4 linked regions of the Homo sapiens genome follow. The protein of the gene in region 4 purifies or fractionates together with the protein of the main gene of each other region. This does not show direct contact. Each region holds a gene or a part of one and is shown on either strand. Other genes may lie near its edges.

What was found.
Region 1: the proteins of DNAJB13 (region 4) and DBT purify together in Homo sapiens (affinity purification with mass spectrometry, with the first as the bait; one large-scale study listed by BioGRID). This does not show direct contact.
Region 2: the proteins of DNAJB13 (region 4) and BCKDHA purify together in Homo sapiens (affinity purification with mass spectrometry, with the first as the bait; one large-scale study listed by BioGRID). This does not show direct contact.
Region 3: the proteins of DNAJB13 (region 4) and SUGT1 purify together in Homo sapiens (affinity purification with mass spectrometry, with the first as the bait; one large-scale study listed by BioGRID). This does not show direct contact.

Annotation. Positions count from the first base shown.
Region 1 is NC_000001.11:100,215,335-100,218,834, forward strand, and holds part of DBT (lipoamide acyltransferase component of branched-chain alpha-keto acid dehydrogenase complex, mitochondrial isoform 1 precursor), read right to left. Parts: intron 3,414-3,500; coding exon 3,292-3,413; intron 866-3,291; coding exon 649-865; intron 1-648. UniProt on the Homo sapiens protein: The branched-chain alpha-keto dehydrogenase complex catalyzes the overall conversion of alpha-keto acids to acyl-CoA and CO(2).
Region 2 is NC_000019.10:41,400,818-41,404,317, reverse strand, and holds part of BCKDHA (2-oxoisovalerate dehydrogenase subunit alpha, mitochondrial isoform 1 precursor), read right to left. Parts: intron 1-3,500. UniProt on the Homo sapiens protein: Together with BCKDHB forms the heterotetrameric E1 subunit of the mitochondrial branched-chain alpha-ketoacid dehydrogenase (BCKD) complex.
Region 3 is NC_000013.11:52,659,336-52,662,835, reverse strand, and holds part of SUGT1 (protein SGT1 homolog), read right to left. Parts: intron 1,362-3,500; coding exon of another isoform or gene 1,266-1,361; intron 188-1,265; coding exon 134-187; intron 1-133. UniProt on the Homo sapiens protein: May play a role in ubiquitination and subsequent proteasomal degradation of target proteins.
Region 4 is NC_000011.10:73,957,526-73,961,025, reverse strand, and holds part of DNAJB13 (dnaJ homolog subfamily B member 13), read right to left. Parts: intron 3,458-3,500; exon of another isoform or gene 3,172-3,457; intron 2,710-3,171; coding exon 2,606-2,709; exon of another isoform or gene 2,602-2,605; intron 2,490-2,601; exon of another isoform or gene 2,297-2,489; intron 2,132-2,296; exon of another isoform or gene 2,001-2,131; intron 1,533-2,000; coding exon 1,371-1,532; intron 1-1,370. UniProt on the Homo sapiens protein: Functions as part of axonemal radial spoke complexes that play an important part in the motility of sperm and cilia.

The DNA of each region.
Region 1 (3,500 bases), on a different chromosome or scaffold from region 4:
CAAATCAGAACTAGTTATTTTGAAAGCTAACTACAAATAGTGAATGTTTAAAATGTCCTGTGTGTCTTCAAACAGAGCAATTATCAATATACAAGTTTATATTTCAAGAAACCTGCTAACGTATTACTCTTCAGAAGATAATGATACACATAAATTGTAAGTGTTTCCTGGAAAAGCTATGCTATTTCACCATTTAAAAATTATGGCCAGGCGCAGTGGCTCACGCCTGTAATCCCTGCACTGTGGGAGGCTGAGGAGGGTGGATCACCTGAGGTCAGGAGTTCGAGACCAGCCTGGCCAACATGATGAAACCCTGTCTCTACTAAAAATACAAAAAATTAGCTGAGCATGGTGGCGTGCACCTGTAATCCCAGATACTCAGGAGGCTGAGGCAGGAGAATTGCTTGAACCTGGGAGGCGGAGGCTGCAGTGAGCCAAGATCGTGCCACTGCACTACAGTCTGGACAACAAGAACAAAACTCCATCTCAAAAAAAAAGAAAAGAAAAGAAAAATTATATGCTGACTGAAGTTGAACTTTCCCTTCAGTAAGACTTGAAAACACCATATTATATACATTTATCTACTGAGGTAGCTTCCCCCAAAATAAATGAACTATTGCCTTATAGTATTGTTATTATTATCATTACCTTTTATGGGTTCTGTTTTGTCTTTGCCTGTGAATACCGGAGGTTTTGATACTAGTATAGGAACAGTCATGTCTTTTGGCTTTGGTGGAGGTGGCATAATTTCAACTTTGGGTGAAGGAGGCAATATAGCTCCTGTCTGCTTTTCCAAATAGTTGAGGATATCTTCTTTAAGTATTCTGCCATCTTTTCCTGAGCCAACAACTTCACTCAGCTTAATCTAAAAAATGATATATTTTAATGCCAAAAATACAACTATTTAAAAACATCATTAAAGTTTCAAAATGGAATTTGATCAACTGACAGTAAAATATATCTGTCCAATAAATTAGTAAAAGGAAATAACCTTTTCATTTTCTACTTAAGTAATCATTACTTTTGTATATACTGTTCACATATGCATGTGGTAACCATCAGGTATCTATATTATATATAATCTAGAGCTATTTATGAAAACTTACTTTTTAAAAAAATTTTTTGTAGAGACAGGGTCTCACTCTGTTGCCCTGGCTGGTCTTGAACTCCTAGCCTCAAGCTATCCTCTCACCTCAGCCTCCCAAAAGTGCTGGAATTACAGGCGTGAGCCACTATGCCCAGCTGAAAACTTACATTTTTATACTCAAGTATTTTAAAATCTCTTGCATAATTCTTACTCGACCTTTTCTATTCTTGGGGACTACATAAGAAGAGGGAGAGCTGAGAATTTAAGAGAAACTAAATGCTATACCAAATTTAGACCAATGTTTCTGACACTGGCTACCAGTTAAAAACGTAACAACTTAAATAATCATAATACAAAAGCTCTCTCAAATTAGTTATTTTTCTGGTAGTTGCTTTGGAAAGATCAGTACAAAACATTTAATTCTATTTAAATAAAAATAAACATAAAAGCTTGGAATGATCTCCTCATATATAGTATGTATTAATTTCTTAGGGATAGGCCCCATTTCATTTGTATTAGTGCATCTCTAAGGATGACTAAAATAATAAAGGACTTTACTAAGGCAAACACTAAGTTTGTAACAAATGGACTATGAAAATTTAAACAAATAATTTTTAGGCAGTTACAAACAACTGTAAATGCCACTGGTTCTTAATTTTAAACAAACTCAATTCATAAATATGCAAATTCAAAGAAAAAAGATGATTTCTGATAACTAAATCCAATATTTAATTTTTAGTAATCATACAAGCACTCTACCCAAGTATTCTATACCCATCTTTAGGGAGTGTTTTAGGAAAGCCAAATCATACATTTCTTCTATATATTTCTTTCTATATTATTAAGAAAAAAATTATTAAAATGCTTTATAGATTTCAAAGCAAAATGTTAAATCATTATTTCATCTGATGCCCTTAATAACCTAATGTTCCACGTTACTATATCTATTTTCTGTTATGCTAAATGGTCTTCATACTTAAACACATTTAAGGGTTACATAACATTTTATCAAGGATACATAACATAATTTGAATGTGTATGCATCTTCTAATTTTTGGCTATATAAAATACAAGGAAGAATGATTCCTAGATTATTTTCTTGGGATAGTTCCCCAGTGGCAGGATAACTGGCTGAAAGAATATGAACATTTTAATGACTCTATTACATATTTCACAAAATATAAACTTTTATTTTTTTCCCACAGCAACCTTACTTTTCTCAAAAAGAGACAAACAAAAAGTCTCATTGTGGGGCACAGTGGAAAGTATTCAGGTTTCAGAACCAGACAGATTTGTGTTCAAATCCCTAGTTCAGCTTACTTGGTTTTAGATAAGTTAATCAACCTGCCTGCAGGGTCCTTGTGAGGATTACAGATGTGTCTATAGTGTCTGGCACATATGTGCTCAAATAATGGAGGCAATGATTGTTGAGGTTTATATAACATCTAACAGCACAGGTTTTGGAGTGATATAGACTCACTTTTGAATTCTGGCTCTTGCTATGTTAGCTGTGTGACTTTAGACTAGTTACTTAAACCCTCCAAGTCTTAAAATAGCTCCTTATCTTACAGGGTTAAATGAGAATACGTAAATACCTATCCCAGTGCCAGGGAGCCACCCTGCCTGGCATTCCACCTTCCATTCAGTCAATGACTGGCAGAGGAAATACAAAAGGCCGGCCTCCTTGCCTCAAAGCAGTAATTCTGTGGTTCTCCCTTGCACCCTCAGATCAGGCCAGAGTCTTTCTTTTTTTACTTAGGACCATGGCAAGCTTTGGGACAGGCCAGATGCTTGATACCATAACCATGTCTGGCCAATTTCCCTTCTCTTCTCTTTTTTATCTTGCTTCCTTCAGTCCCTTTACAGGTTTTCCCTCCTTCAAATTCCTATCTCATGCTGTGCCTCTAGAGCACCTGACATAAGACCTGGTATTTACAAGTGCTCAGTAAATGGTAGCTCTTACTGTTATTAGGCTCTAAGAAAGAATAATAAAATCATACTGCTCAATTGATAGTAAGTAATAAGTTTACAACTTCTCATTTCTCCCATGTATTTTTATGCAACTATTGCTTTTCAGTAGCAAATATCTTCATGTTTCCTTAATTTCATTGAGCTATTTCATCATGGGATAGTTGGCTAATTTTTCAGAGATACAAATGTACACTTCCTATACAATCTCAGACTTAAATATTAAGAGAACTTACATTGTTTTCCATTGCCAGACGGCGAACTGCAGGAGTTGCCAGTGTTTTTCGGCCCTTTATCTCTTGGTGTGTATGTTCATCATGAGACACTGCAGGAGTTTCAACAACATCTTCTTCTGAATCTGGTAACAAGGTAAAACTTAACTTCAGTTGAAAAAAAATTTTTTTTTTTTACTAAGATGTAAAGTAAGGCCACTAAGATGTGGCCT
Region 2 (3,500 bases), on a different chromosome or scaffold from region 4:
ACTACATCTCAAAAAAATAAATAAATAAATAAAATTTTGGCCGGGCACAGTGGCTTATGCTTATAATCTCAATACTTTGGGAGGCCAGGGCAGGCAGTTCACTCGAAGCCAGGAGTTCAAGACCAGCCTGGCCAATATGGCGAAACCCCATCTCTACTAAAGACACAAAAATTAGCCAGGCATGGTGGTGCATGTCTGTAGTCCCAGCTACTCGGGAGACTGAGGCACGAGAATCGCTTGAGCCGAGGAGGCAGAGGTTGCAGTGAGCCAAGATCGCACCACTGCACTCCAGCCTGGGTGAAAACAGAGCAAGACTCTGTCTCAAAACAATAACAACAGCAGCAAATAAATAAGTAAATACTCACATAAAATTTTAAAATAAAAAAAAACGGGAGATTTCAGAGGAGGCAGGATGTATAGTGGTTACCCACATAGGAGGTAGGATGAGGGTCTCTAGGGTTAAACTGCTGGTGTTTGAATCTGGTTCTGTCTCTTTCCAGCCACGCGGCCTTGGACAGGAGCCAGTCTCTGTGAACCTGCGTGCCCTCGTGGGGATGGCATCCACCTCACAGGCTGGTGGAGAGGCGGGGAAAGCACCTGCCGCAGCTCTGGCAGGAATGCCTCACCAGCTAGGATCAGATAGTACCCCTCCAGGAAGCACCAGCATCAGATGGCACACCAGGGAAAGCTTCCTAAAGAAGGGGGAGTTCAGCCAAGGGGTCAGAACACTTCAGTCCTAGGGAAAAACCAAGGCTCCAAGGCAAGAGAAGAAAGCCTGGCGCCCTGGGACCCTGAAGACTGGCATGGCTGCTATAGGTCAATCAGAGAATAACTACATGCTGAGGTGCCACTCAAAGCACTTTATTTACACCTATGTGCTCACTGAACCCATAAGGCATCCAGACGGGGCAGGCACTGTTATCATAACTCCATCAAAGACAGGTGGTAGCTGAGGCGCCGCCTCAAGGGCTAAGCAACTTGTTCAGGTCCAGTGCATGCAAGGCTTTGTGGATGGTGCCAGTTAACTCCAAGTCCTCCGTATCTAGGGTAGCTAAGGCCACCCAAACCCACTCTCTCCTGAGCTCAAAGGCACTCTGCCCTCAAACAGAGCAAAGAGTTGAGTCCCCCTTCCCAGAATATCTCGTGAGAAGGGAAAGGCGTGCAGATTAGGCAGGTATCACTGTCCCTGTTTCACAGACAGAGACCTGGTGTTTGGGGTCTGGAACGCTTCTCTGAGGAAGTGTCATGTCAGCCATCATCTGAAGGACCTCATACCTACAAAGGCCACCAGGTGGGAGGAGGCACATTCAAGGAAGGGAAAGATGGCCAGGGGGACTGAAGTGGAAAGAGGCGAAAGACAAGAAAAATCACCTGCCCGGCCACACATGGTGGCTCACGCCTGTAACCCCAGCACTTTGGGAGGCTGAGGTGGGTGGATCAGTTGAGGCCAGGAGTTCGAGACCAGCCTGGCCAACATGGCAAAACCCTGTCTCTATTAAAAATATAAAAATTAGCCGGACACGGTGGCACACACCTGTAGTCCCAGCTACTCGAGAGGGGGAGGCAGGACAATCGCTTAACCCAGGAGGCAGAGGTTGCAGTGAGCAGAAATCACGCCACTGCACTCCAGCCTGGGTAACAGAGCAAGACTCCGTCTCAAAAAAATATAAAACAAAATAAGCCAATACTGGACTAAGAAGAATGTTGCAAGACTTGAATCTAAGCTCCATCCTTTCTCCTCCTGGCAGCCTGGTACCATGAAAAGAAACTGGGTTTTGGAGTCCAGAGCTCCAAGTTCAGACCTCACCTCTCTGAGCCTCAGTCTCTCCATCTGTAATAGGAGAGTACTACCAATAAAGGCCTTGCACTATTGGTGTATTAAATATAATAAAAAATTAGAGTTGGATTTGTAAACCATTCAGTGCCTCAAGATGTGAAAAAGGAGGCCAGGTTTCTTAACACACTAGCAAGTAAGAGATGGACCCATACACTTAGAAGACTGTAATGACCATCTCCATTCATCCCACAATACACACTGACATGGTTTGTCTCTGTCCCCACTCAAATCTCATCTTGAATTATAGCTCCCATAATTCCCACATGTTGTGGGAAGGAGCCAGTGGGAGGTAATTGAATTATGGGGGTGGATCTTTCACGTGCTGTTCTCATTATACTGAATAAGTCTCACGAGATCTGATGGTTTTATAAAGGGGAGTTCCCCTGCAAGCACTCTGTCTGCCTGCCACCATGTAAGATGTGACTTTGCTCCTCATTTGCCTTCCGCCATGTTTGTGAGGCTTCCCCAGCCATGTGGAACTGTGAGTCCATTAAGCCTCTTTTTCTTTATAAATTACCCAGTCTTGGGTGTGTTTTTATTAGCAGCCTGAAAACGGACTAATACATACACTGAGTACCTACCACTTGGAGATACTGCACAGGGCACTGGAACCCCCAGACAGGCTGCCCCTGAAGAGCTGGGTCACAGAAATAGTCACCGATAATTAGCACAGAGCGAGCTCCAGGGGCTTCCTGACTTCCAACAGGGTAGGGACTCTATTCACCCCACTAGCTAGGGTCAGAGAGGTGAAATGACTTAGCCAAGCCCAGGCCTGGGGTAGTGGCTGAGAAACTGACTCACAATTCCTTGACAATCTGAGTTTCCTTCCTCCTCCTTTCCCTGAGCACTAAAACGTCTGCTATGATAACAGAGACAGGAAGGGAGGTGAAAATCAGGCAAACACATCTGCAGGGCAGCAGGGTATTCAATGAAGGAGTGGGCAGAGCAGGGGCAAGAAGTCGGGGACAAGTAAAGCAGCCCCACTCCTCCTTCTAATCCAATCTTCCCCAGTGAACCCAGTAATCCAATCTGTCTACAATATGCAGCCTCTCAACCTTTCCCTGACTATTTCTTCATCTCCACCTGGATAAAACTGCATCATCTTAGCCAGGCATGGTGGCTCACACCTGTAATCCCAGCACTCTGGGAGGCCGAGGTGGGTGGGTCGCCTGAGGTCGGGAGTTCAAGACCAGCCTGATCAACATGGAGAAACCCTGTCTCTACTAAAAATACAAAATTAGCCAGGCATGGTGGTGCATGCCTGTAATCCCAGCTACTCGGGAGGCTGAGGCAGGAGAATCGCTTGAACCCAGGAAGAGGAGGTTGTGGTGAGCCAAGATCATGCCATTGCACTCCAGCCTAGGCAATGAGAGCAAAACTCCACCTCGAAAAAACAAAAAACAAAACAAAACAAAAACCCTGCACCATCTAATGTGGCAGCCACCAACCACTTGTGGCTATCTTATTTTGAGACAGAGGGCTGCTCTGTCACCTAGGCTGGGGTATAGTGGTGCGATCTCGGCTCACTGCAATCTCCGCCTCCCAGGTTCAAGCGATTCTTCTGCCTCAGCCTCCCAAGTAGCTGGGACTACAGGCACACGCCATTACGCCCAGCTAATTTTTTTGTATTTTTAGTAGAGATGGGGTTTCACCATGTTGGCCA
Region 3 (3,500 bases), on a different chromosome or scaffold from region 4:
AAGTCCACATCTAAGGAAACGTATACTATTTAAAAGAAATTATAAAGATAAAAACAAATTTGTTTAAACCAAAAAAATTTCAGATGTTTACTTCTTTTTAAATTGAAACAAATACCAAGGGAGACCCACATACCATTCTGAGCTTCTTGACACCTTTTAATCCAGACACTGAAATTAGCATCTGCACCTAGAAAGAAAAAACTGACTATAACATCACTCATCTGCACAACCTATAAATCAACAAATACTTACTGAATACCTACTACATCCCAGGCAGTGTTCTAGGCACTGGGGAGTCGGCAGCGAACAAAACCTGTCTTAACAGACCTTATCACCAACTCTACTATAGTTATAAATATACCAATAGTTTAACATTTAGTTGTTAATCATGAAACATTTTGATTTTTTAAAAATTTTAACTACAGTCAACCTTAATTTCACAGATACAAATAATCTGCATTTCCCCCAATCCCGCTGCTCTTAGAGAAGCTTCCTCACACACAGAACAAAATCAGATGTAAATCAGACTCCCAATATGCCATCAGTTAGGGTGGGGAGGAGGCTTGGTAACTGGGAGCTGAGTTGAGGTTCAAAAGCCGTTCCCAGCCCCAGCTTGCTCTTCAATGCAGATACCTATTCAGTCCACTATTCTCTCAGTGGCTTTATCTGTTACCATGCCTTTCCTACCAACACCAAGCATCTTTAAATTCCGTGAAGTTTTGTCCTATCTCCAAGTTACATGGCAGTCGAGAGGCTATAGGTGATGTATTATATATTTATAGATAACAGTGTAAATGTATGCATAAACAAATTATTCACTTCTGGAGACACAGAACAATGATTACATTTAAACAGTCACAGTGCATAGTAAGATATGTTAAAAGTATTAAAAGTACTCTAAATAAGAGCTTATTAATTCAAGTTAACTGCAGACAAGATAAATTTGAAAATCTTAAATTAAAAATTTCTTAACAAAAATTTCTACTTTACTAATTTATAAAAGAAATCCAACTATACCAGCATTAATAAAAAATTTAAATACACTCTCACACACACTGTATTCTAGAGAACTATTGTATCAAAATCTATTATATCAAAAAGATTTGAGTAACCTATTATTTTAAGTAATCAGTAACTAAAACCAAGCAATTTATCACACAAAGAGGGGAAAAGGTAACAATTCTTTACCCTGTCTGATAAAAATAGAAGCCTAAAAGTTTAACTTAACTTTTTCCCAGATTTTGGCCGGGCATGGTGGCTCATACCTGTAATCCCAGCACTTTGGGAGTCCAAGGCAGGTGGATCACTTGAGGTCAAGAGTTGGAGACCAGCCTGGCCAACACGATGAAACCCCGTCTCTACTAAAAATACAAAAATTAGCCAGGCTTGGTGGTGCATGCCTGTAGTCCCAGCTGCTCAGGAGGTTGAGGCAGGAGAATCACCTGAACTTGAGAGACAGAGAACTGCACTATGGCCTGGACAACACAGTGAGACTCAGTCTCAAAAAAAGAAACAAACAAACAAACAAACAAAAACAAAAAAAAACCCCAAAAAACAACAACAAAAAAAGTTTCCTGGATTTAAAGACAAATTTATTTTTAAGTAAAATATCCTCAACAGCAATTTTACCAAACAGGTCTTCCTCTGAAGGCCACCTCTGAAATAACTAAAGAATAAATGTCAATGGCATGATATTAAGATATTACTCAAGAAAATAATCTAGGGGCCAGACGCAGTGGCTCATGCCTGTAACCCCAGCACTTTCAGAGGCCGAGGCAGGCAGAACGCTTGAGTCCAGGAGTTCAAGACCAGCCTGGGCAACATGGCAAATCCCCATCTCTGCAAAAAATAAAATGCAAAAATTAGTCAGGTGTGGTGGCATGTGCCTGTAGCCCCAGTTACTCAGGAGGCTGAGGTGGGAGGATCACTTGAGCCCAAGAGGTGGAGGCTGCAGTGACCCAAGATCGCACCACTGCACTCCAGCCTGGGCGACAGAGCGAGACCTTCTCTCGCTAAAAAAAGAAAGAAAAATGAAAATGTAGAGAATGGTATGACTCATGTTTCTTCAGGATTTTCACATTAGGTACCAAGGCACTACATAACTTCACTCTAGAATTTGCTAAGAGTGCAGATGTCCTGTTTGCTGACTGAATAGGCCTACTATTCACATACCAAAACTGGGATAAGCAAGTTTGAGAATAAGCCTTATCACCCAGACCTCTCCTTTTTTAATTTGTAGCTTCCATTTGCATAATCAGTGCTAAAATCCTTTTTTCTGAATAGGTACACAACAGAAAGGCAAACATTCAAAACAGTACAGAGTAAGAATGTAACATAAAATACTAAGAGTGAAGTTTCTTAATTTCAGCACTACTGACATTTTGGACCATATACTTCTTTGTTAGGCAGAACTGTCCTGGGCATTATAGAATATTTAGTAGCACCCCTGGTTTATACTCATTAGATGTCAGTAGCACAACCCCCATCCACCATTCATGATTATCAAAAATCTCTTCAGACATTGCATAAAGTTTCCTGGGAAGCAAAACCGTTTCCAGTTAAGAACCACTTCTTTAGAGAACTGTGATAAAACTCTATCATAACATAAAGATAAAATGATAATACAAGTAGGATTATGTAGTCTCCAATTTTCTGAAATTACTCACAACCTCTTAGTATTTTTCAGATTTAAAAATTCTTGGCTCTCGGCTGGGTGCAGTGGCTCATGCCTGTAATCCCAGCACTTTGGGAGGCCGAGGAGGGTGGATCACAAGGTCAGGAGATTGAGACCATCCTGGCTAACATGGTGAAACCCCATCTCTACTAAAAATACAAAAAAATTGGCCGGGCGTGGTGGTGGTCGCCTGTAGTCCCAGCTACTCGGGGGGCTGAGGCAGAAGAATGGCGTGAACCCGGGAGGCAGAGCTTGCAGTGAGTCGAGATCGCGCCACTGCACTCCAGCCTGGGCGACAGAGTGAGACTCCGTCTCAAAAAAAAAAAAAAAAAAAAAAAAAAAAAAAATATATATATATATATATATATATATTCTTGACTCTCACAATTTCTATATGTCTAGATATCCACACCACTGTGATACTTTTCATATATTCCCTCAAGAATATAACATTAAAAGTCACAATACTCTCAAAACTGTGTTTCTTCTGTACCCTCTCATAATTTACCCAAACGTACACTTCACTTCTCCATAAAAACCTTTAATGTTAAGATTTCACATCTCAGCAATCTGAATAATTTAAAATGAACAGACTTCTGACCAAGGCAAATTAAACTTTCACTTCTCCATTAGAAAAAAACAAAGCCAGACTAAACAGAGAGAGCATGTTAGGTGTTTCCATAGTTTTTTTTACTTCTAATGGTGAAGTTCATCTATGATTTAAATGCCAAAAGGCTAATTTAATCGATTTTAAGTGATCTCATATCTGCAATCAATATGAAATATAATTTAGATGAGAAAAACAGGTATTGGGTTTCTACAATTA
Region 4 (3,500 bases):
AGTGAGCCACCACACCTGGCCTCGGTGATTTTTTAAAGCACCTAATTCCCTGTTTTGAACCCCTTTCTGCTTCACGTGGCTAAAACAGTATTTGCTTCTGCAATGGATCCCTAATAGACATCTGTACAATGAAATCTTATGCAGATCTGTACATAGTATATAGATTTGCATGTAAGTGAATAAAGTAGATCTATATATAGTATAACATATAAGATAATCTCCAAGATATATTAAGTGAAAAAAAAAATCATTGTGTAAAATTTGGCCCTATTTCCTTAATAAAAGGCTTCTGTAAAAATAAATACAGCTCATACAAGCATGGCAAGTTTCTGGAAGGATACATAAACTGTTTACTAATAGCTGCTTCCCTAGTAGCTGCTTCTGAGGAAGAAAATGGAGGGCTCGGCCAGACACGGTGGCTCATGCCTGTAATCCCAGCACTTTGGGAGGCCGAGGTGGGCAGATCACCTGAGGTCAGGAGTTCAAGACCAGCCTGGCCAACATGGCGAAACCCTGTCTCTACTCTATGAAAAATACAAAAATTAGCTGGGCGTGGTGACTCACACCTGTAATCCCAGCACTTTGGGAGGCAGAGGTGGGCAGATCAGCTGAGGTCAGGAGTTCAAGACCAGCCTGGCAGACATGGTGAAACCACGTCTCTACTAAAAAATATAAAATTATTAGCTGGGTGTGGTGGTGGGTGCCTGTAATCCCAGCTACTCAGGAGGCTGAGGCAGGGAGAACTGCTTGAACCCCGGAGGCGGAGGTTGCAGTGAGCAGAGATCATGCCACTGCACTCCAGCCTGGGTGACAGAACAGGACTCCATCTAAAAAATAAAAATAAAAAAGAAAGAAAGAAAAAGAAAATGGAGGGCTGGAATGTATTTCTTTTTCAATGAATTCTGTTTTACTTTTTCTTTTGCAATGTGTTTTATATATATTTATTAAAGTAAAAATAGGCCGGGCACGGTGGCTCATGCCTGTAATCCTAGCACTTTGGGAGGCCAAGGCCTTAGGCAGATTGCCTGAGCTCAGGAGTTCGAAACCAGCCTGGGCAACATGGTGAAACCTCGTCTCTACTAAAAATATAAAAAAATTAACTGGGTGTGGCAGCGTGCGCCTGTAGTCCCAGCTACTTGGGAGGCTGAGGGAGGAGAATCATTTGAACCCGGGAGGCAGAGGTTGCAGTAAGCCATGATCCCACTACTGCACTCCAGCCTGGGAAACAGAGTGAGTCTCCATCTCCAAAAAAAATAAGTAAATAAAATAAAATAATAAAGTAAAAATAAAAACAAAACTACTCAACGAAAACATCACTTATAGCAGTGTCCTTTCTCTATAAGGCAAGGTGGGGGAGGAAGACCTCTTACCACTGAAGGGGTTGTTTCCACCAAAGAACTCGTGGAACACCTTTTCAGGTTTGCCATGGAAGACGTAACCAGTTGTCCATGGGGTCTGGGATCCAAACTCCAAAGGAATCCCACCCTTCAGGCCCTCTTCTCCAAACTTGTCGTAGATGCCTCTCTTCATGGCTGTGGATGGGCATCACCTTAAGGAGGTGTCCAACTTTGGGGGCTGAGATAGGTGGAGGGGCTGGGAAGCAGGCGGATATGGAGAAAGGGAAGGGGCAGAAGCAGCCTGATCCCAAAGTGCCTGCTGTCTGGCAGTCTTTGGAATGAGACCCTAGGAGTCAGGCGTTCCATTTCATTCTGGGAGGACCTAGGTATGGCTCCTGTAGCCCAGAAGAGAGACGGGAAAGCCTTGAGTTTGCTGGGGGCAGGGTGAGAGACTGGGGGAATAACTGAGAGACTGAGGCTCAGGCAATGGCCCTGGGATTTGGCCTAACTCAGTCATCATAGCCACTGTCTTATCTGGGGTAAACGGAATCGTAGAACCTTGACATTTTAGAAGCTAAGAATTCTAGAGCCTCCAAATTTTAAAACTTCGAAATCCTAGAGTCTAAGGACCCTGAAGTCCTGAAAACTCGGGGCTGTAGAAACCTTAGTGATCTTCTAGCTGCACTTCCGCAGGAACCAGGATTAGTCTCCAGGACAATCCCCCAGGGAAAGCCCCGCAGGACGGCCCTGGGTGCCGGGGCGGGGATCACACTTTCTTCACTCTGCTGGTTTCCCTAGGAGACAGATTTCCTAATTACTCCTGGCCTTTCTCTGCCTCTTCCTACTGTTGCTGGCCCTGGGGAAATGGACACTAAGCCACTGGGAAGGACCTCTGGGAGGGACAGGTGGGCACGCCTGCCCAGCTTCAGCTTTCTTCCCCGTAGCTGCAAGCCCCTTACTCTGTTTCTCCCGGGGAAGGTCCCGTCCCCGCAGGGCATAGGGATGCGTGGGGAATGTGCCCCAGCTCCCACACTGCCTGCCAGGATGAGCGAGTCAGTGTAATCCTGGGCTCCACACCCCACGTCCTCCACCTCAGCTTGCTTCTACTGAGAAAGGCGGGTCCGTATTCTGTCTTCTCTGTGTGTCTAGATTCTAGGCAGGGAAGAAGGATGCTTCCTCGTTATTGGGCCCCCTCAGAAAACCCAACAGTCTAGAGACTTAAGGAATGATCCTAATCAAGCGGGGTGCTCAGCCCCACACCTACTCACGGTCACTCAGCACGTCGTAGGCCTCTGCTATTTGCCTGAAAATCTCTGCTGAAGACGGCTCATTTGACTTCAACGGGTGGTGCTTAAGGGCGAGTCTGCGGTACCTGGAAGAGGGAGAATTAATACAAGTCTTATCAGCTGGTCTGTTTCTGAGGGCGGACCAGAGTTCAGAGCCGGCACTCTGTTCACTCCTGCCTAGCTATAAATCCGGGGTGACTTCACCAGCTGTGGTGGCTGCGGAGGTGCACTGCTCAGCTCTTGAAGAGTAGCTGGTGCGGGGAGCACAGTTGACCGACAGTTCCAGCAGCTGCCCCCCTGGGCATCTGAGCTGAAGCAACTGCCCCTGAGCTGCCCTCAATGCTTACGTGTGGTGGGGATACCAGGGCTGGCCCATTCCTGCAAGACACAGGACTCCTCCAACGGGCAAGCTTTGCGCGAGGGCTCCCCAGAGGCTGGCTGAGCTGCTCCCCGGGCCTCGCTGCACTCTCCCTCCTTCCTCCCCTCCCTGTCTCCACTCGCAGGTGTCAGGCTGTACTGTGCGCGCCCCTGCTCCCTTCCCTTCATACTTCACGGTTTCTCCAGGTGCATTTCCTGCTCATCTAATCCTGTTTGCTTCTTAGAGGACCGGAGCAGACACACAGGCATCTTGGGAGGATGAGCTACAATTGGGTGTGCAGCGGGCATGGCTGAGGCGCTCAGTGCCCGTCCGGTTCCTGTGCCGCCCCCACCCTCTCTCTGCTCATTTTTTCCCCACTTCTGTTCCTGCCCAGTCCTCTGCTATTTGCCTGAAAATCTCTGCTGAAGACGGCTCATTTGACTTCAACGGGTGGTTAAAGGGCGAGTCTGCGGCACCTGGAGGAGGGAGGGTTGATACAAGTCGTACCAGCTGGCCTGT